2 separate regions of the Homo sapiens genome follow, and region 1 is linked to region 2. The links come from fine-mapping of genetic effects on gene expression. A gene starts in region 2. The other region holds a variant in brackets. All regions are shown on one strand. Distances are between the middles of the regions. Region 1 has its middle 18 kb from the start of RBM4B. Region 2 holds the start of SLC29A2 (solute carrier family 29 member 2).

Evidence for each region.
Region 1: its variant is fine-mapped to the expression of SLC29A2 in whole blood (TOPMed, PIP above 0.99).

Annotation. Positions count from the first base shown.
Region 1 is chr11:66,656,358-66,664,357 of GRCh38, forward strand. It overlaps a transcript of RBM4 not described here. Among named protein-coding and RNA genes, the nearest start is that of RBM4B, 18 kb to the right of the region's middle. The variant T/C (reference allele first, on the strand shown) is at 3,674.
Region 2 is chr11:66,365,206-66,381,054 of GRCh38, forward strand. It overlaps SLC29A2 (solute carrier family 29 member 2), which reads right to left and starts at 6,555. Exons shown (of 12, transcript NM_001532.3): 1 at 6,358-6,555; 2 at 6,039-6,120; 3 at 4,164-4,327; 4 at 3,855-3,994; 5 at 3,332-3,466; 6 at 2,567-2,664; 7 at 2,259-2,343; 8 at 1,226-1,359; 9 at 921-1,026; 10 at 731-816. The coding sequence starts at 6,386. RefSeq lists a silencer at 6,251-7,010.

The sequences.
Region 1 (8,000 bases), 290 kb after region 2:
TCTCGATCTCATGACCTTGTGATCCACCCGCCTCGGCCTCCCAAAGTGCTGGGATTACAGGTGTGAGCCACCGTGCCTGGCCTAATTTTCTATTTTTTTAGTAGAGACGGGGATTCTCCATGTCAGTCAGACTGGTCTCGAACTCCCAGCCTCAGTTGATCTGCTCACCTTGGCCTCCCAAAATGCTGAGGTTACAGGCATGAGCCACTATGCCCGGCCTGAAGTATTATTTTCAAACAATAAAATATACCAATTTTGAAAACAATTTGACACATTGTGACAATGTACTTTTTTGGGGGGCCTTTTGTTTTGTTTTTTAAAAAGATGGTGTCTCACTCTATTGCCCAGGCTGGAGTGCAGTGACATGATCTCGGTTCACTGCAATCTCCACCTCCCGGGTTCAAGCGATTTTTGTGCCTCAGCCTTTTGAGTAACTGGGATTATAGATGCATGCCACCATGTCCAGCTAATTTTTATATTTTTAGCAGAGACGGAGTTTCACCATGTTGGCCAGGCTGGTCTTGAACTCCTGACCTTAGGTGATCCACCACCTTGGCCGCCCAAAGTGCTGGGATTATAGGCACAGTCGTGAGCCACCATGCCCAGTTTGACAATGTACTGGTAATTTTGGTAACTGATGGTTACAATCTTGTTCCCATTGTTGCAATCAAAATACAGAACATTTTTGTCAGCCAAAAAGCCCTTGTGCCCCTTTGTAGTTAATCCTCAGCCCCTGATCAATTTTTTAGTCTTTTTTTTTTTTTTTTTTTTTTTTTAGGTGCGGTCTTGCTCTGTTGCCTAGGCTGGAGTACAGTGGTATGAGTATGGCTCAATGCAGCCTCAACCTTCTGAGCTGAAGCGGTCTTCCCATCTCAACCTTCCAAGTAGCTGGAACTACAGAGGTATGCACCATTGCACCTGGCTAATTTATTTTTTATTTTTATCTTTTGGTAGAGATGGGGTCTCCCTATGTTGCCCAGGCTGGTTAGGAACTCCTGGCTCAAGCTATACTCTTGTCTCAGCCTTCCAGACTACTAAGATTAGGCCGGGCGCGGTGGCTCACACCTGTAATCCCGGCACTTTGGGAGGCCGAGGGGGTGGATCACTTGAGGTCAGGAGCTCGAGAGCAGCCTGGCCGACATGATGAAACCCCGTCTCTACTAAAAATGTAAAATATTAGCCAGTTGTCGTGGTGCGCACCTGTAGTCCCAGCTACTTGGGAGGCTGAGGCAGAAGAATCACTTGAACCCGGGAGGTGGAGGGTGCAGTGAGATGAGATAGCGCCACTGCACTCTAGCCTGGGCGACAGAGCAAGATTCCATCTCAAAAAAAAAAAAAAAAAAAAAAAAAATTATAGGCATGAGCCACCTCGCCTGCCCCCTCCCCCACCTTTTTTTTGAGACAGGGTCTTCCTATGTCACCCAGGCTGGAGTGCCGTGTTCAACCTCCACCTCCTCCCGGGCTCAAGCAATTCTCTCACCTCAGCCTCCCGAGTAGCTGGGACCACTGGCGCATGCCAGCATGCCCAACTAATTTCTGTATTTTGTAGTTGTGGTTTTGCCATGTTGCCCAGGCTGGTCTTGAACTCCTGAGCTCTAGCCATTTGCCTGCCTCAGCCTCCCAAAGTGCTGGGATTACAGGCGTGAGCCACCTAGTCTGACCCTTTTTTAAAATTTTTTTTTTTTGAGATGGAGTTTTGCTCTTGTTGCCCAGGCTGCTGGAGTGCAACGGCACGATCTCGGCTCAGTGCAACCTCTGCCTCCTGGATTCAAGCGATTCTGCTGCCTCAGCCTCCCTAGTAGCTGGGATTACAGGCATGCACCACCACGCCCGTCTAATTTTGTATTTTTAGTAGAGATGGGGTTTCTCCGTGGTGGTCAGGTTGGTTTTGAACTCCCGACCTCAGGTAATCCGCCTGCCTCGGCCTCCCAAAATGCTGGGATTACAGGCGTGAGCCACTGTGCCTGGCCTAGTCTGACCTTTTTTTTTTTTTTTTTTTTTTTTTCGTTTTGTTTTAAATGGGCAACTAGAATAGGCTCAGAGATTCCCTGAAATCATTGTTAATTGTCACAATTTAGGGGGTTTCTCCCGCCAGGGATGTGGCTAAACATCCTCCAATGCACAGGAGGGGCACCTTTCCCAGTTATCACTAGTGCCAAGTTTGAAATCCTCTTCAAGACTTCATTCATTGCTTTGGCTTTGTATACCATATGGAGTTGTGCTGTTCAGTGTGGTAGCCAGAGACATATACAGTGCTGCGAGTACCAAATACCTATGGGATTTAAAAAATTAATATAAGCCAGGCGCAGTGGCTCACGCCTGTAATCCCAGCACTTTGGGAGGCCAAGGTGGGCAGATCACTTGATGTCAGGAGTTTGAGACCAGCCTGGCCAAGGTGGTGAAACCCCATCTCTACTAAAAATACAAAACTTAGCCAGGCGTGGTGGCACGTGCCTGTAGTCCCAGCTTCTTGGGAGGCTGAGACAGGAGAATTGCTTGTACCTGGGAGGCGGAGGTTCTATTGAGCCAAGATTGGGCCACGGCACTCTAGCCTGGGCAACAGAGCAAGAGTGTCTCTCAAAAAAAAAAAATATATATATATATATATTCAGTTTTTAATGCTCATTATATGTTGAAATGGTCATTTTTTTGCACATATTGGGTAAAAATACATTAAAATTTTTTTTTTTCCTAACCACCAGACTATCTGGGGAAAATAAAATTAATACAATTTAATTTCACCTGTTTCAGTTCCCTATGTGGTTTGCATTTGTGGCTCACATTGTATTTCTGTTATGTAACACTGATCCAGGTGCTAAAGACTCTTGATATCTCCAGTTTGAAACCTCTCTTCTGTGCTCAAGATTCAGGGATCTGGACACCTAGCTGACATTTCTTCTTGGTTCTTTTTTTTTTTTTTTTTTTTTTTTTGAGATGGAGTCTCACTCTGTTGCCCAGGCTGTAGTGCAGTGGCGCGATCTCGGCTCACTGCAAGCTCCGCCCCCCGGATTCAAGTGATTCTTCTGCCTCAGTCTCCTGAGTAGCTAGGACTACAGGCACGTGCCACTACACCTGGCTAATTTTTGTATCTTTAGATACAAAATTTAGAGACGGGATTTCACCATATTGGCCAGGCTGGTCTCGAACTACCGACCTCGGGTTCTGCCCGCCTTGGCCTCCCAACTTGCTGGGATTACAGGCATGAGCTACTGCACCTGGCTGGTTGTCTTAATACACCTCAAACTTGGTATATCTGAGATAGAGCTCCTGAGACTCCCCACTCTAAAATCATTTCTCCTTCAGTCTTCCTTATCCCATTCTCTCTTTCAGCCAGATTGCTGGTAGTCATTCTTACGCCCTCCCCAACCATTAGCAGCTCTTGATCATGTTTATATCACATGTTGCCTCTTTTCTCCATGTCTTTGCCACAGCCATAGTCTAGACCATGCTATCCTCTCCCACCAAGATGACTACAGTGACCTCCAGGTCCATCTTTTTCTTACCCTTGGGTCTTCAAAGTATTCTCCATTTAATAGCCAGAATGTTCTTGTGAAATGTATGTAAATCAGATGTTTCTTTCGTTACTTAGAACCTTTCAGCAACTTCCCCTTTTATCTAAAGTAAAATGCCCAATCCCTTAGTTTGAACGTGCCTTTCCTCTGTCACACTTTAT[T/C]ATCTCAGGCCCTTTTCCCTGCTTATCTATCCTTTTCTGACCATACTGACTCTCCTTTCAGATCCTTGTATACACTGAGCTCTTTCCTGCCTCAGGGCCTTTTTTTTTTTTTTTTTTTTAAATCTGAAGGGACCTTTCTCTTTACTGCTTTAGAGCTAACTTAACTTCAGGTCTTAGCTTCAGGATCAAGTATTGGAATGCCCTCCCAAACCACCTGTAGCTTAGTAGATATGTCCTCCCATTATTCCCTGCCATTGGACCCATTTTGTGTAATTTGTGGTACTTATCACAATTTCTTTTTTTTTGAGATGGGAGTCTCTCTTTTTTTTTTTTTTTTTTTGAGACAGAGTCTTGCTCTGCAACCAGGCTGGAGTGCAGTGGCACGATCTTGGCTCACTACAACCTTTGCCTCCTGGGTTCAAGTGATTCTCCTACTTCAGCCTACTGAATAGCTGGAATTACAGGCTTCTGCCTAATTTTTTTGTAGTTTTAGTAGAGACAGGGTTTCGCCATGTTGTCCTGGCTGGTCTCAAACTCCAGACCTCAGGTGATCCTTCTACCTCGGCTCCCAAAGTGCTGGGATTACAGGTGTAGGTAGGCCACTGCACCCGACCTAAACTTTTTTTTTTTTTTTTTAATTTGAGATGGAGTCTTGCTCTGTCGCCCAGGCTGGAGTGCAGTGGTGCGATCTCAGCTCACTGCAAGCTCTGCCTCCCGGGTTCACGCCATTCTTCTGCCTCAGCCTCCCGAGTAGCTGGGACTACAGGCATGTGCCACCATACCTGGCTAATTTTTTTTGTATTTTTAGTAGAGGCAGGGTTTCACCATGTTAGCCAGGATGGTCTCGATCTCCTGACCTCGTGATCCACCCGACTCGGCCTCCCAAAGTGCTGGGATTACAGGCGTGAGCCACTGCGCTCAGCCGTGCCCGGCCTAAACTTTCTAAATCTCAGTAGCCTTAATTGCTGGGAGAGCCAGTGATGCTACCTCATTGGGTTCTTGTGGATTTGCAGGGGTGACAGATACACGGTTTGAATTTGGCCTGGATTCTCAAAGGCCCTGCAAACCTAAGGCACTTCAGATTGAATTCATCTCGTCAGATTTTTCATTCTTCTCCTGCAAGTTCCTGGAGCTGATTCTATCATTTCTTGCATTTCATTTCTCCTCAGCGGCAGAGCCTAGCTCTGGTCTGAAGAAAGCCGAGATTGATCTTCCAACAAACTGACAGCTCTTCCCAGGAATATTTATTTCTCCCCTCCTTCCTTTTCCCAAATCTCCTAGGCCAGGTGACTTCCTGAGGACCAGGTTTGTAAGCAAAATCCTGACAAGCTATGAAACCAATCTGGGGCAAGTTGCTTCCCTTTTCTGGTCCATCTTGCAGGCAGCCAACCTTTTTCTGCCCTTAGGACAAGTTTCTAACAGCACCTTGAGTGCCCTGAGGGCCTAGTGTCTTTCTGTGCCATGCTGGAAACCTGAGGAAGGGGGTAGATCTGAGGCTACAGAAACCACATATGCCTCATTCATCACCATGTTCCCACATCCTAGCTCATAGTAGGAATTCAAACAGTTGATAAATGAATTCAGGAGCTTTTAGCGTTGAGAGGCCTCATGGGACTCTGAAATGGTCTATAGTGAGAAACTTGGTGAACTAAAGGAATTTTGTATTCACAATATGCAATTTATCATATAAGAAGTAAGGTTTAGGAATAAAAACATTGGCCAGGTGTGGTGGCTCACGCCTGTAATCCCGGCACTTTGGGAAGCCGAGGTGGGTGGATCACCTGAGGTCAGGTGTTCAAGACCAGCCTGACCAATATGGTGAAACCCCATCTCCACTAAAAATACGAAAATTCACCAGGCGTGGTGGCGCGCGACTGTGATCCCAGCTACTGGGGAGGTTGAGACAGGAGAATTGCTTGAACCTGGGAGGCAGAGGTTGCAGTGAGCCGAGATCATGCCAGTGCACTCCAGCCTCAGTGACAGAGCGAGACTCCATCTCAAAACAAAAAAATACATTTGTCCTACTCAACAGTACTCTTTTGGTGTGAAAGGTTTTCTAAAATAAAAATTATGCAATTCTGCAGGGCTTTTTCTCCACCTATGAGCAGCTTATTTTACTATCTAAACTGCTGTCCAATAGAGTAGCCACTAGCTACATGTAGCTAATTATAATTAAATAAAAAACTCAGTTTCTCAGTGGAATAAACCACATTTCAGGTACTCAGTAACCACAGTAGCCACAAATTGGACAGCACAGATATGGAACACTTCCATCACTGCCAGGAGTGTTATTGGGCAGTGATGATATAGAACTCTTTTGCAGAAAATTTTTTTTCTTGTGCCAATGACATAGAAATCAAGATACTTTTATTTATTTATTTATTTTTTTGAGACAGAGTCTCACTCTGTTGCCCAGGCTGGAGTGCATTGGCGTGATCTTGGCTCACTGTAACCTCTGCCTCCTGGGTTCAAGCGATTCTTGTGCCTCAGCCTCCCTAGTAGCTGGGATTACAGGTGCACACCACCATGCCCGGCTAATTTTTTGTATTTTTAGTAGAGATGGGGTTTCACCATGTTGCCCAGGCTGGTCTCAAACTCTTGAGCTCGGGCAATCCACCTGCCTCAGCCTCCCAAAATGCTAGGATTACAGGCGTGAGTCACGCACCTGGTATATGTTAAACTTCCTATGTTAAATTGGTTGAAACCTAGCACAGAACCACCAGAGATTTTGCTGAGGCCAGCAAAACCTGCAAATTTTTTTTCTTGGCTCTGCATAGTGCCTTGCAGATCATAAGAAAATCCCAGCATCTTTGCCTTATTTTCCCTTTTGTAAAACAGAGACAGTCTTGCTTCCTTGGGGAATACTGACGCTAACATGAGCCTTATGTACATCACCACTGGTTGGAATGTGTGCATGGATGGACAGGTTAACTTCTGTAGATTGTCAGACCATTCCCCTAAGAAATAAGGGAAAATTTTTGCTTCACCTGTCAAGATTAAGTATAAAATATGTGAGGTAAATGCTTTATTATTGTAGGTAAAATTTCACATGTAGTCAGAATTTACACATCAACATTTCCATATAAAGTACAATAAAGCTTAAGTAGAGTTGAGTCCATCATTAAATGTGTTCTATGGGGATCTAAACAAAGATAAATAAGATGTCCATAATCTAGAAGACATACTTTACTGCAAAATGTCACTGCTAATCATTAATATGTGATTTGCTTTTCTGCTCAAAGTACTATGTATGAATATTTTAGCCAAAGCCTAATCCTAGCAGAATATTAGCACCTTGGGAAGACAGACCTCTTTTAATAGCTCATAAGTGAATTTAATTTTTTATTTTTTTGAGATGGAGTCTCGCTCTGTCACCCAGGCTGGAGTGCAGTGGCGTGATCTCGGCTCAGTGCAACCTCTGCCTCCTTGGTTCACGCCATTCTCCTGCCTCAGCCTCCCGAGTAGCTGGGACTACAGGCGCCCGCCACCACATCCAGCTAATTTTTTGTATTTTAGTCTTGATCTCCTGACCTCGTGATTCGTGTGCCTTGGCCTCCCAAAGTGCTGGGATTACAGGCATGAGCCACTGTGCCTGGCCTAATTGTTTTTTAAAAATTAAAAAAGGAGAAACACTGGAGAGGGGTGGTAACTAGGCAAAAATGTGTGTGTATATGTGTGTGTGTGTGTGTGTGTGTGTGTATATATGTTTTCTTTTTGTTTTGTAAATATGAGCCAGAAAACTATGAAGTCAAATTTAGTTAATGTGATAGGTCCTTGGAGAGAATCTGGCTCAGCCTTTTTCTGATGCAGGGCTTACTCCTAGCACTACTAATCTGAGTCTGTTAGCCTTTAAACTGGTTTAAGAGCAGCTCTGGTTAGAGAAAAGTAGCCTCACCACCAGCTGTAGCAAATTTAGCAGTGTCTCAAGAATCTGGCTAACTTCCTACCACCTATTACTGAAGCCACAGCACTAACCTAAATCCTTTTTTGTTGTTTTGGAGACAGGGCCTCCTGTTGCCCAGAATGGAGTGCAGTGGCATGATCACAGCTCACTGCAGCCTCAACCTCCTGGGCTCAAGAGTCTCCCACTTCAGCCTCTTGAGTAGCTGAGATTACAGGCATGCACCACCATGCCCAGCTGTTTTTTTTTTTTTTTTTTTTTGAGATGGGAGTACAGTGGTGCCATCTCGGCTCCCTGCAACCTCTGCCTCCTGGGATCAAGCAATTCTCCTGCCTCAGCCTCCCAAGTGCTGGGACTACAGGCACTCGCCACCACGCCTGGCTAATTTTTGTATTTTTAGTAGGGACAGGGTTTCGCCATGTTGGC
Region 2 (15,849 bases):
CAGAGTGCTAGGATTATAGGTGTGAGCCACCACGCCTGGCCCACCCATAGGATAGACCCATCTGTCACCCCCTGACCTCCTCTGACCTGACCTACCTTGTGAGCCAGTGAGGGAGGACCCAGCACTGGGGCCTGGGCCAAGTCCACCCAGAAATCAGGGACTGGCCTGGGGCTCACCTCTGCCTCTCCCAGGCTCCAGCTTGTGCTCTCCACCGCATCTACAGTTTACGTACTCGGTTCCTCAGAGCACCCACTGGTGGTTCCACAGACCCCCTTGGGGGCAGATGGGGTTTCTGAGTGGGATTGGAAGCTGTAGATCAGCTCCTGTCCTGACTTGGATGAGACCAGCTCCTCTTTCACCTGCGTTATGTATTGTCTCTTTGGAAGATTTCATTTAAAGATACAGTACCATGGCTAAAACCAACCCCAAAACTAAGACTCTTGCTCAGTCCCTCACCTGGTGCAGGAACCTCCATGTAACATTCTCTGAGCAGCAAAGGCTGGATGCTGGGGACACAGAGGTCAGCTGGACATGATTTTTGCTTTCAGGGAGCTCACAGTGCAAGCCCTGGCCTGCACGCCTCCAGGGCCCAAGTGCTCCCTGCTGCTTGGCCAGTGGTTGCATTACCAGGCCATTTGGACTACCAGAAAATCACCTCCATGCTCTTTCAAGCCCTCGGATCCCAAACTGCTTCCTAAAACATCGGATCACCCAGCCCTGGTGTGCTTACCCACAGGAAGTAAGAGGTCAGGCTCCGTCCCAGCCAGTCCATGATGTTGAAGAGGAGGAAGCAGCAGATGGGGTTGAAGAACTGACCTGGGAGGGAAACGGCTGCAGCTCATACTGGTCTCCAACTCCCCTCTCCCGTCCTCTCCCCTTTGTACCCCCTGCCCTGCCGTCTTCTCCACCCTGACACTCACTCCACTTCCCAGGACTGGTGGAGCTGGTCACCATGGCTGTGATGGCGGGGAAGACGGACAGGGTGACTGTGAAGACCAACACAAGGCACAGCGCTGTCAGCCAGATCTGGGAGCCAGAGGCAGGGGTGTGAGCAGGCAGGGCAGTCCCAGGGCCCCACCCTCTTGCCCAAGCCCCATGTGGGAGCAGGACACTTGGGGCCTGGCCCAGCTGTGTCCCTGACCCACTGTGACCCTATGACCTTGGAGTCAATGTGAGCCCCATTCTTCCCCAAAGATGGTGGTTGGGGGCTGTATCCAAGCCAAACCTTCTGGAAGACAGTGAAGACTGAAGGTTTTCCTGGCTTCTGGGGCTCATCTGGCTCTGATTCCGGCTCCTTCTCCAGGTCAAGATCCAGGGTCAGAGCTACTTTCTGGGGACTACTGGGAATCCCGTTCTCATCTGGGGTGAGGGGGGACGGGGAAGGGTCATGCTTGTGACCCAGGTTTCCCGACAGCCAGGCCCAACGAAGGGAGATTCCCAGCAGTTAAAACAAGTGATCCTCAGCTCAGCATGGTGGCTCACGCCTGTAATCCCAACATTTTGGAAGGCCGAGGCGGGCATATTGCTTGAGCCCAGGAGTTCGAGACCAGCCTGGGCAACATGGTGAATCCCCATTTCTACAAAAATAAAAAAATTAGCCGGGCATGGCAGCCTGCACCTATAGTCCCAGCTACTCGGGAGACTGAGGTGGCTCACTTGAGCCCAGGAGGTCGAGGCTGCAGTTGAGTTGTGATAGCACTGCAGTGCAGCCTAGGTGACAGAGTGAGATCCTGACTCAAAATAACAACAACCCCCTCACCCCAAAACAAAAAAAGGTGATCTTCCTCCAGCCTAAGCTGAGGCTGCAGGCGAAGGGAATTCATGATGGAAATATGCATAGCTACCAGGAAGCGCGTGCATGGGTCGGGTGATGAGCGAAGCACCTTAGATGGATTATCTCATTACCATTGCTTTACAAATGACACATTGAGGTTCAGAGGGGTGCAGTGGCTAAGTGGTTTGTCTCAGGCCACACAGCTGGGATGTTGTGAAACTAGTATTCCAATTCAGAGGTCTTCGGATCCAAAGTTTGCATGCATGGAACCTCTGTCGCCTCCCCATTTTATAGAGGTGGAAACTGAGGCCCAAACAACAGCAGGGATGACTTTAATCCTACCAACTTCCCTTCATGATCTTCCTGTTTGCACAAGGCTACTAGGGGTGGGCTCTGGCTGGGAACAGATGGAACAGCTTCCCAGGGGAGGTGGCTCTAGCTTCCTCTGCATCTCCCACCTCCCCAGGAGGGTCTCAGGGCTTACCAGACTGGAGGAGCTCAGCTTTGGTCTCCAGCTCCTGAGCTTGGGCCTGGGATGATTTATTGGCCAGGTAGTAGCGGGCAAACTTCTGCAGAAGGACAGGAAAGTGTTGGGCCTGCCTGGCTTGCCTGAGGTGTCTGGATCCCTCCCCATACCATTGGCCTGGAGGCTGGGGCCCCTCAGTGTCTTCTCTGGGGGTCAGGGCTGAGACCAGGTCTCCTCCACCTCCCCTGGCCTCTCTCAGGGCCTCAGGCTCAGGACTCTATCCAAGATGCTTTGAGGTGGGGCCTCGAGCCCAACAGCAGGCTCACCAGGTGAGGCAGGCTCAGGTAACACACGATGGACATGAGGATGCCCACACAGGGCGTGATAAAGTACCCCAGGGCAGAGGTCTCGGCGTCCACGCCACCTGCGGAGGAACTTCAGCTGCAGAAGAGAGGCACCTGGTCCCGCCGGCTCCCACGGGGCTTCCAACTCTTGTCCCACTTCCCATTGTGTACTTCTCAGACCCACTCCCAGCCTCTTCCGCTCCTCCCTTCACTGACAAATGGGAATCTTGTACAGGGCCCCAGAGCAGCCCTGCACTTCTCTCACTTTCCCCATGTGTCATTTTTGTTGAGCACGTACTATGTGCCAGTAGCCTTCTCTCATTGCATGCTCATTACAATCTGAGCAGGGAGCTATACCAATCACGTCGGTGGGGAAGCTAGCACAGAGAGGTGACAAGCCTTGTCCAACACCCCTAGCTGGTAAGCGGTGAAGCAGATTCAAACCCAAGACTATCTGAATCCCAAACCCATCCCCTTATCCTTCAACTTCAACCTGCTGCCACATGCCAGTATTAGCCCCAGGAATCCTGCCCCTGTCCCTGAGTTAACCCAGTCCTCACTTGGTTATTACTCCTCACTGCAGGGCCCATGAGCCCCACTCCCTAGCCCCAGACCCAATCCCCATTTCCATATCACCTGCTTACCTCCATCTTCACCCAGAACCCATGTGTCTTGCTCTCACATGCCCTCTCTCTTCCCCAAACCTCAGAGGCCACCCCAGCCCTCCAGCCACCCAAGTGCACTCACTGGCCATGGACAGGAGCATGGCAAGGGCAGCAAAGATCCCAGCCAGGCCCTGGCCGCTGAGGAAGAGGGTGCTGTAGGTGGAGGGCATGGTGCCCAGCTGCCCGAAGAGGCTGCCCTGTAGGACTGCACTGAAGGCTGTGGAGGACAGGGATGGGGGCTGCTGCTCAACTAGGCAAGACTCAGAGGCTCCCTGGAGGAGGTGCCGGCAGGATACACAGGGGACTCTGGACAAGGTTGCGCAGGTGTGAGCTTCCCTAGGGACTCTGAGCACTCGGGGGCAACACCCGCTATTCAGTCCTCTTCTGAGGTGCAGCCATTGGTCTGTGGGGCTGTTGACCAGGAGGCCTGCTCCTAGGTCACCGGACAAGTGACTCTTCCCCTCCCTGTGGGCCTCAGTTTCTTCACCAGGGATATGAGCGACCATGATGCTGTCTGCCCTTCTCGGATATGCTGGGCCCTTTCAATGATGAGGCCAGGCTGAAGCCCTGCATAGGCTGGCTGGAGAGGGGGTGGAGGTGCTCACAGTTGATGAAGCAGACGGAGGCCATGGTGATGGAGAAGAAGGGTCCGGGGCTCATGTCCACCTTGACCAGCGCTGCTGTCAGGGCAAAGAGCAGCAGTATGGCCAGCAGGCTGCCCAGAATGCGCACCGTCTCCGGGACGCTGCTCAGAAGCAGGCAGAGTGCATCAGTGGGGCCCAGGCCAGAGGGGGCTGGGGAAGGAGGCTCGACACCTGGGGCTGGGCAGTAGGGCTGGGGGGCAGGGGGCGCAGGGGAGGGCCTCAATGAAGCTGCCTCGGCAGAGGGCGCAGGAGCCAGGGCAGGCCTCTCACCACTGGTACAGGAAGGAGTTGAGGAGGGTGAAGAGCAGCAGGGGCAGCTGGGACAGCAGCGTCACCCAATTGTTGAAGTTGAAGGCATCCTCGGGACCCGTGTGGTTGGTGCTCAGGATCCTGGCTGTGCTGTTGCCGGCCCCGGCCAGTCGCGCCTGGAAGTACTGCCAGGTGGGGAGGTGGTGGAGGGTCAGCACCTCTCAGCCTTCCCCCGCTGCCTTCCCCCTCACTTGTGATTGCTTTCTAATGTCTGTGGGGACTTGTCTGCCTTGTCCTTGTTCTGTTCCCAGCAGCCGGCACACAGTCGGAGCTCCATGAATGTGTGCTGAGTTAAATGGCTGAAGTCTGGGACACAGCCTAAGCATTAAGAGCCCCCAGCAAGAGCCTCGATCCAGCCTTGGACGGCCCCTCCTCTTCAGTGCCCTGGTTCCAGCCCCCATCCCCACTCCTGCAGCAGCTGCTACATTCATTCATTCCACGGGTATTTATTGAGCGCCTACTGTCAGCCAGGCTTTGGCCTAGGTGCTGAACAACTGCATTCTCTCTAGAGCACATAGCCTGCCACTCCTCTGCTTAACCTCCTCACTCCTCAACACCCCGATTCATGCCTCCCTATTGCCTGCAGGGCAAAGCCCCAAATGGAACAGCTCTTCAGAATCAGATCCTAGTCTCCCTTTGTGCCCCATCTTCTGCTCCATCCTGCTAAGCTCCAGGCAGCCCTGGCTGTGGATCTCCCTCTAAACAGGCTGATCGTCTCTTGCCTGCCTGCCTTTGGCATGGCTGTCGCCTCGGCCTGGAATGCCCTACTGACCACACCCCTCCACATGCACTTTGCCTACCCTACTCCCAATTTACAAATCTCCTCTTCCATGAAGCAGAAGGAACTTTCTCCCTCCCCTGGGGACCCACTGCACTCTGCTGCAAGCCTGGAATGTCACGCATCATGTTACATTATTAATAGCTCTTTGGCCCCCTCTTGCTCTCAAGCCCAGGGGCTGATTCATCTCTGGGTTTCCAGGGCCCAGCACAGAGCCAGTACCCAAGAAGCATTTGCAAAGTTGTTGCAGTGAATACAGATGAATAACCCGGTCCCAAAGACAATGCAAACCCCACATTTCTGCCTTCCCTGAAGAGCCTCCCTGCTGTTTCCTCCTGTGTCCCCAGTGCCTGCTCCACAGTAGATGCACATTAAAAGTTTGTTGAATGAGGCTGGGCACGGTGGCTCACGCCTGTAATCCCAGCACTTTGGGAGGCCGAGGCGGGAGGATCACGAGGTCAGGAGATCGAGACCATCCTGGCTAACACGGTGAAACCCCGTCTCTACTAAAAATACAAAAAAAAATAGCCGCGCGTGGCGGCGGGCGCCTGTAGTCCCAGCTACTCGGGAGGGTGAGGCAGGAGAATGGCGTGAACCCGGGAGGCGGAGCTTGCAGTGAGCCGAGATGGCGCCACTGCACTCCAGCCTGGGCGAAAGAGCCAGACTCTGTCTCAAAAAAAAAAAAAAAAAAAAAGTTTGTTGAATGAATGAGTGAATGAATGAAATTCATGGTATTTCAAAGAAAATCAAACGTTCGATAACCGACTTTTGGGGTGACTGACTCAGGAATAACGACACACAGAGAGGGGTGGCAGCGCCTTTGCTCATTCCAGACCCTGTGGGCTGGTGGCCTTGCCCCTCTGAGATGTGGGCATTGCTGAAGTTCTACTTTCCTAGCCACGGGGGAAGCATTCCCCTCTCCGAGCTTCAGCCCATAATGAGCTCAACGAGGGGTCACAGGTGCGCGGTGAGGAAGCGCCCGCTAAGCTTCATCCAAAGGGCTGGAGGGAGGGGTGCTGGCTGTGGCCACGAGGCTGCCACGCCGCCAGGAGTCTCACCGGGATGGCGGTGATGAAGAAGTTCCAGGGAAGGAGGGTGCCCAGCCCCAGGATGAAGAAGCTGATCCCGACCAGGTGGTAGCTGTGGGGATCGGTGGGAAGGTCACCCCGAGGACGCACCCGCCTCCGCAGGCCCTCCCGCCTCCCAGGCCACCCCCTCCGGAGCGGACTACAACCCCGATCACCCCGGTTCCGGCGGCCGAGGGAGTCGGCTGATGGGAATTGTAGTTCGATCCGGTCTTCTCTGAGCCTCGGAGCGCCTTCAGGGAGCGGGTCTGCAACGCCCCCGGCCACTTGCAACGCACCCGGGCCCACTCACCTGTCCCGCGGGGCGTCTCCTCGCGCCATGGCCGCCGCGGCGGATGCGCCTGGGGTGAAAGGGGCAGAGAAGCCGCACCTGCACCTGCGCTGGGGCGGAGGGCCGCAGACCGGTGGGGCGGGGGGCGGGTCTCCCCAGATTCCGGTGCAGGGCGGCTGGAGTCGCACAGGTAGCCTCGGGCGGATTTCGGCGTGTCTCGCGCTCCGCAGGCTGGGACCTGGGCTCCGCCCCGAGGCGGGGACAGAGGGTCGCGCCACCCGTCTCTCCTTCCCCCACCCGCCTCAGGGACTCGACTCTGGCTCGGGCCCCGCCCCACCTAGGGGCCTGCGGAACCCGCCCGCTCCCCGCACAGCCCCTCCCCGCAGCCCCCCGTCCTCTCCGCGGGGGCGGGTCCCGGATCCCTGCGGCGGAGGGGAAGGCGGGGGTAGGGACGAGGTGTAACCTCACCTCCACCCCCCGCCGAGAGCTCTGTAGGGGCAGCACTGGTGCGGGGCTCTTCCCGCTTCGTCAGCTCCGAGGTGATGCCAGAGCCGCTCCTGCGACCCCTAAAGCTGGAACCCACCGGGGCGCCCCCTAACTAGGGAGCCGCTGCGGAGTCCCCGCCCAGAGCGTAACCCGAGCCGGGCCCGGGCGGGGGAACCAGAGCTGCCACAGGTCGCCCGCGATCCTGGCGGGCTTCGCCGCGCTGGGTCCCCGGGAGTGCCTGGAAAAAAACAGCATTACTTTCAACTCCCTACTCTTTTTCTGTTAAAAAAAAAAATTTGAAAAGACTATAAATCATTAATTTGCTCCTACTCTCATAATCTACGAATAGGTGTGGGTTCTCTGCAATCCCCGGGCGTATCGGGGACGCTGGAGAAGTGAGAGGCTCCAAAACACAAACTAGTTTTTTTGAGACTGAGTGTCGCTCTGTCGCCCAGGCGGAAGTGCAGTGGCGTGATCTTGGCTCACTGCAACCTCCCCCTCCCAGGCAGGTTCAAGCGATTCTGGTGCCTCAGCCTCAGGAGTAGCTGGGACTACAGGCGCATGCCACCACGTCCGGTTAATTTTTGTATTTTTAGTAGAAACGGGGCTTCACCAGCTCTACTGAAGAGGTGGCCAGTCTAGTCTCGAACTCATCTTTTGACCAGGCTGGTCTCGAACTCTTGACCTCAGGTGATCCGCCCGCATCGGCCTCCCAAAATGTTGCTATTACAGGCGTGAGCCACCACGCCCGGCCACAAACTATTTTCTTAAGCAATGACATTTTATAGCCATTCCCAGGTTGCTTATGTTTTTCCTCCAGCCGACTGAGAGTCTGTAGGGGCAGAGGCTGTGCTTATCTGGTCCATTGGTTTACTGGCAGCATCTAGCGCCGTTGAGTGATAAATGGGTGGTTGCAGTAAAATGCAGGTGATTTTAGGGAGAACAGAGACAGCATTAAATTACACCGAAAGAGAAAGTTATTCTTCCCATTTTCTTTCAAGCCTCTGAATATGTCAAGGGTGTTAACAGGTTGCTAACACTTCTTAATCTGCCTTCCCATCCCTTCCCCTCAGTTAGCCTCAGAGGGTCTGCTGACAATTTTATCAAAAGTTATTAACTTGTATTTTTCTTATATTTATTTTTATAGCAACTTTATTTTCAGGGCTACTCATACTGGTTTCCTATTTATGATTATGATATCAACTTTTCTTTGAAAAATCAATTTATTTATGGAAAATGAGTTATTTAAAGAAAAGCGAGGCCGCTGGTGCAGCACAGCTATGGCACAGGTTGTGAAGGAAGGACTTGAGAATGGAGGCTAGGGAGCACTGAATTTGTTGAGACAGTGAAGGGAGAGGATGAGGGCATTTCAGGGAGAGAACAGCCTGTCCCAAGACAAGGGACAAGAGAGTGCTGACACATTCTGGGACATACAAATAGATCCCTTTGGCTGGCATTGGTGGGAGGAGGGGACAGAGCCTCTACAACAGCCAGGCTGGTTATGGCAAGTCTGAGGGCTGATTAAGGAGTTCAGATTTCATTTCAAAGCACAGACGGTCAGCTGGAGCCGATTCCATCGTCCTTGTAATAAATATTTTGTTACTATCCTGCAATGAAACTCATATAAAACAAAACCTACCTATACACAATAACATTTGATGTCGAGATAATATCCTGATTTTACTGCAGATGAATCATAAGGGAAATTATTTAGTAATAACATGGTGTGTGTGAATGTGTTAATATTCATGGTACATGAAGCTGTCAAATGCTTGCCCTTCTTTCTAAAACTGCAGTGAATCCACGGCTACAAACTCACATGCGATACAGGCATGCAGTGAAACTGGCCACTCAGAGACCCACTAGTTTGCCAGGATTTTCTTTTCTTTTCTTACCTTTTTTTTTCTTTTCTTTTTCTCTTTTTTTTTCTTTTTTTTTTTTTTTTCAGACGGAGTCTCTCTCTGTTGCCCAGGCCAGAGTGCAGTGGCAGGATCTTGGCTCACTACAACCTCTGCCTCCTGGGCTCACACGATTCTCCTGCCTCAGCCTCCTGAGTAGCTGGGATTACAGGCGTGTGCCATGATGCCTGGCTAATTTTTGTATTTTTAGTAGAGACAGGATTTCGCCATGTTGGCCAGGCTGGTCTCGAGCTCCTGACCTCAGGTGATCTGCCCGTCTCAGCCTCCTAAAGTGCTGTAATTACAGGCATAAGCCACTAAACCCAGCCTCTTTTCTTTAAAAAAAAAAACAATTTTTTTTTTGAGACACAGTCTTGCTCTGTCACCTAGGCTAGAGTGCACTGGCGCAATCTCAGCTCACTGCAACCTCTGCCTCCCAGGTTCAAGTGATTCTCCTGCCTCAGCCTCCCCTAGTAGCTGGGATTACAGGCACAAGCCACTATGCCCGGCTAATTTTTGTATTTTTTAGTAAAGATGGGGTTTCACCATCTTGGCCATGCTAGTCTTGAACTCCTGACCTCGTGATCCACCCACCTCAGCCTCCTAAAGTGCTGGGATTACAGGCGTGAGCCACAGTGCCCGGCCTAAAAAAAAACTTTTTTCCTCATTTATGTTTTAAATTTTATTTTTATTTATTTTATTTTATTTTACTTATTATTATTATTTTTTAAGACAGAGTTTTGCTCTTATTGCCCAGGCTACAGTGCAGTGGTGCAATCTTGGCTCACTGCAAACTCCACCTTCCGGTTTCAAGCAATTCTCCTGCCTCAGCATCCCAAATTGCTGAGATTACAGGCGCCCACCACCACGCCCAGCTAATTTTTTTGTATTTTTAGTGGAGACAGGGTTTTACCATGTTGGTTAGGCTGATCTCGAACTGCTGACCTCGTGATCCACCTGCCTCGGCCTCCCAAAGTGCTGGGATTACAGGCGTGAGCCACCGCTCCTGGCCCTATTTATTTATTTTTTTGATACATAATAGATGTACATATTTTCAGGGTGTATGTGATAATTTAATCTATTCATATAATGTGTAAAGATCAAACTAGGACAACTGAGATGTCCATCACCTTAAATATTTGTCTTTTCTTTATGCTAGGATGTGATTTTCTTAAATGTGACCAAGTCCTGGTCAAGTTCCAAAGAAGTCAAAGGGCAGCTGTCCGTCAACACAGACAGTAGCTGTGTTACTGAAGAATGCTGTGTATATTCAAGCCTTGCAAATAATACATTTTGTCTAAATGTAAAAAGGATTTAGAGTCTAGGCTCAGAAAAATTATCAACATGGTTTTAAAAAATAAATAATAGATTTTATTTTTAGGTTGTACTTAATCTAATGTTAAACCTGTGTACTGAATTTCATTCAACATTGATGATGATGATGATGATGATGATGATGATGATGATGATTATTATTATTATTATTATTTGAGATGGAGTTTTGCTTTTGTTGCCCAGGCTGGAGTGCAATGGCGTGATCTCGGCTCACTGCAACCTCCACCTCCCAGGTTCAAGCGATTCTCCTGCCTCAGCCTCCCGAGTAGCTGGGATTACAGGTGCGAGCCACCACACCTGGCTAATTTTTGTATTTTTAGTAGAGACAGGGTTTCACCATGTTGGCCAGGCTGGTCTCGAACTCCTGACCTCAAGTGATCCACCGGCCTCAGCCTCCCAAAGTGCTGAGATTACAGGCATAAGCTACTGGGCCCAACCTGGCTTCTTTCATTTATATGTGTGCTTAAGGATCCTGCATGTCTTTTCTTGGCATGATAATTCATTTCTTTTTTTTTTAATTTTTTAAATTTTTGAGATGGAGTTTCACTCTTGTCGCCTAGACTGGAGTCCAGTGGCATGATCTCAGCTCACTGCAACCTCTGCCTCCCAGGTTCAAGTGATTCTTCTGCCTCAGCCTACCAAGTAGCTGGGATTACAGGTGCCTGCCACCATGCCCAGCTAATTTTTGTATTTTTAGCAAAGACAGGGTTTCCCCATGTTGACCAGGCTGGTCTCGAACTCCTGGCCTCAAGTGATCTGCCTGTCTCGACCTCCCAAAGTGCTGGGATTACAGGCATAAGCCACCGCGCCCAGGCAACACATTTATTTTTATTGCTAAATAATACTCCATTGTATGAATTGCCATGGTTTGTTTATCCATTTACCTATTTCAAGACGTCTTGGTGGCTTCCATGTTTTGGTGATCACAAATAAAGATGCTATACACAATTGTGTGGAGGTTTTTGTGTGGACATAAGTTTTCAATTTATTTGGGTTAAATGCCGAGGAGCACCATTGCTAGGTCATATGGTAAGACTGTTTAGTTTGGTAAGAAACTGCCAAACTATCTTCCAAAGTGCCTGTACCATTTTTTGTTCCCAGCAACAATGAAACAATTCTTGATGCTCCACATTTTTGTGGGCACTTGGTGTTAATGTTTTAGAGTTTAGCCAGTCTAATAAGTGTGCAGCGATATCTTGTTTTATTTATTTATTTATTTGTTAATTTTTGTATTTTTTTGAGACGGAGTCTCACTCTGTCGCCCAGGCTGGAGTGCAATGGCTCAATCTCGGCTCACTGCAACCTCTGCCTCCCGGGTTCAAGTGATTCTCTGCCTCAGCCTCACCAGTAGCTGGGATTACAGGTGCACGTCACCATGCCCAGCTGATTTTGTGTATTTGCAGTAGAGATGGGGTTTCACCGTGTTGGCCAGGCTGGTCTTGAACTCCTGACCGCAGGTGATCCACCTGCCTCGGCCTCCCAAAGTGCTGGGATTACAGATGTGAGCCACCATGCCTGGCCCTTTTTTGTATATTTTGGATAACAGTCTGTTATCTGATGTGTGTGTTGAAAATATTTTATCCAGTCTGTGGCTTTTCTCTTCATTCTCTCAACAGTGTCTTTCGCAGGGCAGAAGTTTTTAATTTTAACGAAGTCCAACCTATACTACTTATTTCATGCCTTGTGCCTTTGGAGTTGTATCTAAAAAGTTATCACTATATCCAAGATGATCTAGGTTTTCTCCTATGTTATCTTCTAGGAGTTTTATATAGTTATGTACAGTTTAAGTGTTTTATATAGCTTTGTGTTTTACATGACCAATTTTAAGCTAATGTTTGTGAATGATTTAAGGTCTGTGTCTAGATTCAATTTTCCCATGTGGATGTCCAGTCGTTCCAGCACCGTTTGTTGAAAAGACTGTCTTTATTCTGTTGTATTTCCTTTGCTCCTTTGACCAAGATCATTTGACTATATTTATGTGGCTCTATTTCTGGGCTCTGAGTTCTGTTTCATTGATCTATTTGTCTATTCTTTCACTAATAGCACACTCTCTTGATAACTGTAGCTATATTAATTTTTTTTTTTTGAAATGGAGTCTCGCTCAGTTGCCCAGGCTGGAGTGCAGTGGTGCGATCTTGGCTCACTGCAACCTCCACCTCCCGGGTTCAGGCGATTATCCTGCCTCAGCCTCTTGAGTAGCTGGGACTACAGGCACATGCCATCATGCCCAGCTAATTTTTGTATTTTTAGTAGAGACCGTGTTTCACCATATTGGTCAGGCTGGTCTTGAAATCCTGACCTCGTAATCTGCCTGCCTCGGCCTCCCACAGTGCTGAGATTACAGGCATGAGCCACCGCTCCTGGCCGTTATATTAAATACTTAACTTGGGTAGTGTCAGTCCTTTGAGTTTGCTCTTTTCCTATATTGTGTTGGCTATTCTGAGTCTTTTGCCACTTCACCTAAGCTTTAGAATCAGTTTGTCAATATCCACAAAATAATTTTCTGGGATTTTGATTGGAATCATGCTTAATCTATAGATCAAGTTGGGAAGGAGAGATATCTTGACAATATGAAGCTCTCCTATCCATGAACAGGGAATATCTCTCCATTTTATTTATTTATTTATTTATTTATTTATTTATTTATTTATTTATTTAATTTTGAGACAAGGTCTCACTCGGATGTCCAGGTTGGAGTGCAACGGTGCAGTGACAGCTGACTGCAGCCTCAACCTCCCGGGCTCAGTCGATCCTCCCTCCTCAGCCTCCTGAGTAGCTGGAACCACAGGCATGTGCCACCACTGAGCTAATTTTTTAATTTTTTGTAGAGAATAAGTCTCACTATGTTTCCCAGACTCATCTCAAACTCTTGGACTCAAGTGATCCTTCTACCTTGGCCTCCCAAAGTGCTGGAATCCTAGGCATGAGCCACCGGTCCCAGGCCTCTCCATTTATTTAATTCTTCTTTGATATCTTTCATCAGAGTCTTACAGTTTTCCTCATATGGATCTTGCATATTTTGTTATATTCATTACACGTAACTATTTCCATTTCTGGGATGGTAATGTAAATTATAATGTGCTTTCATGTATGTTTATTGCAGCACTATTCACAATAACAAAGACTTGGAACCAACCCAAATGTCCATCAATGATAGACTGGATTAAGAAAATGTGGCACATATACATCATGGAATATATGCAGCCATAAAAAAGGATGAGTTCAGCTGGGCGCGGTGACTCATGCCTGTAATCCCAGCACTTTGGGAGGCCAAGGCAGGCGGATCACGAGGTCAGGATATCAAAACCATCCTGGCTAACACAGTGAAACCCGTCTCTACTAAAAATACAAAAAAATTAGCAGGGCGCGGTGGCGGGCGCCTGTAGTCCCAGCTACTCGGGAGGCTGAGGCAGGAGAATGGCATGAACCCAGGAGGCGGAGCTTGCAGTGAGCCGAGATCGTGCCACTGCACTCCAGCCTTGGGACAGAGCGAGACTCCGTCTCAAAAAAAAAAAAAAAAAAAAAAAAGGATGAGTTCATGTCCTTTGCAGGGACATGAATGCAGCTGGAAACCCTCATTTTGAGCAAACTATCACAAGGACAGAAAACCAAACACCGCGTGTTCTCACTCATAGGTGGGAATTGAACAATGAGAACACTTGGACACAGGGTGGGTAACGTCACACCCAGGGGCTTGTCGTGAGGTGGGGGGCAGGGGGAGGGATAGCATTAGGAGAAATACCTAATGCAAATGACGAGTTAATGGGCGCAGCAAACCAACATGGCACATGTATACCTATGGAACAAATCTGCACGTTGTGCACATGTACCCTAGAACTTAAAGTATAATAATAAAAAAAAAAAGAAAAGAGGAGCACCCACTAAAAATGTTTGGTTGATTTCACAAAGCAGTTTGTACCTTCTGAAATGTACAAGTTGCTAAAAAAAATTGCATTTTTTTCCTCTTTTTATAGAGTACATTCTTTTTTTTTTTTCTTTTGAGACAGAGTCTCGCTCTGTCGCCCAGGCTGGAGTGCAGTGGTGCGATCTTGGCTCACTGCAAGCTCCGCCTCCTAGGTTCACGCCATTCTCCTGCCTCAGCCTCCCTAGTAGCTGGGACTACAGGCGCCCGCCACCACGCCCTGCTAATTTTTTTGTATTTTTAGTAGAGACAGGGTTTCACCGTGTTAGCCAGGATAGTCTTGATCTCCTGACCTCGTGATCCGCCCGTCTTGGCTTCCCAAAGTGCTGGGATTACAGGCGTGAGCCACCACGCCCGGCTATGGAGTACATTCTTAATGCGGTAAAAAAATTATAATGTGCTTTAAATTTTGCTCATTCATTGCTATATATAAGAATATGGGGCGGGGCGGGGTGGCTCACGCCTGTAATCCCAGCACTTCAGGAGTCCGAGGCGGGCGGATCACCTGAGGTCGGGAGTTCGAGACCAGCCTGACCAACATGGAGAAACCCCGTCTCTACTAAAAATACAAAAAAATTAGCTGGGCGTGGTGGCGCATGCCTGTAATCTCAGCTACTCGGGAGGCTGAGGTAGGAGAATCGCTTGAATGCAGGAGGCGGAGGTTGCGGTGAGCCAAGATCGCGCCATTGCACTCCAGCCTGGGCAACAAGAGCAAAACTCTGTCTCAAAAAAAAAAAAAAAAAAAAAAAAAGATTGACTTTTGAATATTAACCTGTATCCTCCAGCCTTGGTATAATTGCTTATTATTTCCAAAGCTTTTTTGATTCTTTCAGGTTTTCTACCTAGGAAATTATGTCATTAGCAAACAAAGACAGTTTTATTTCTTCTTTCCCCATCTGTATGCCTTTTATTTCCTTTTATTAACTTATTGTGTTGGCTAAAACTTCCAGTAGGATGTTGAAAAGCAGTGGTGAGAGGGGACATTCTTGCCTTGTCCCTGATCTTACCAGAAAAGCTTCAAGTTTGTCGCTATAAAGTATATAGTTAGCTGTAGTTTTTTTGTGGATGCTCTTCATCAAGTTGCTTTCTAACCCACAAAATGTCTATTTCCCATGATTCAACCTAATAACAACGTGGGAAAACATTCATTGATTTGTAGTATTTTGTGAACATTCTTGATGGCCAAGTATTGTCGATGAACAATGCAGTAACTTGCTGAGTGGGCGGGTCACGAGGTGAGGAGATCAAGACAATCCTGGCCAACATGGTGATACCCCGTCTCTACTAAAAATACAAAAGTTAGCCAGGCGTGGCAGCACATACGTGCCTGTAATCCCAGCTACTCAGGAAGCTGAGGCAGGAGAATTGCTTGAACCTGGGAGGGGGAGGTTGCAGTGAGCAGAGATTGCACCACTGCACTCCAGCCTGGCTACAGAGCTAGACTCTGTCTCAAAAAATAATAATAATAATAATAGAAATAAAAACCAAACAAGCAAAAACAAGACAAAATAAAAACCAACCCTCTTTGCCACTGCTGGAAGCGGTTGGCTGCATCACACCAACTCTTAACTCTGAACATTGGTAATTTAAGAGGAAACTATTCAGCATGTATGGGAAGTAATTAGGGTTGAAATATCATGATACTTGGTTTTTACTTTATATATTATATGTACTTTATATGTAATTATGTATTATTATGTTTTTTCATATAGATGGAAAAATGTTGCAAAATATCAACAATTGCCACCTAGGTTGTGGGTTTACGAGTGTTCATTGTGCTATTCTATCTTTCTGTGGATTCAAAGCTTTCTATGAAAAAAAGTTTAAAAAGTAAGAATTTCTCTTACTTTTCCTATTTAACCATTCGTCAGA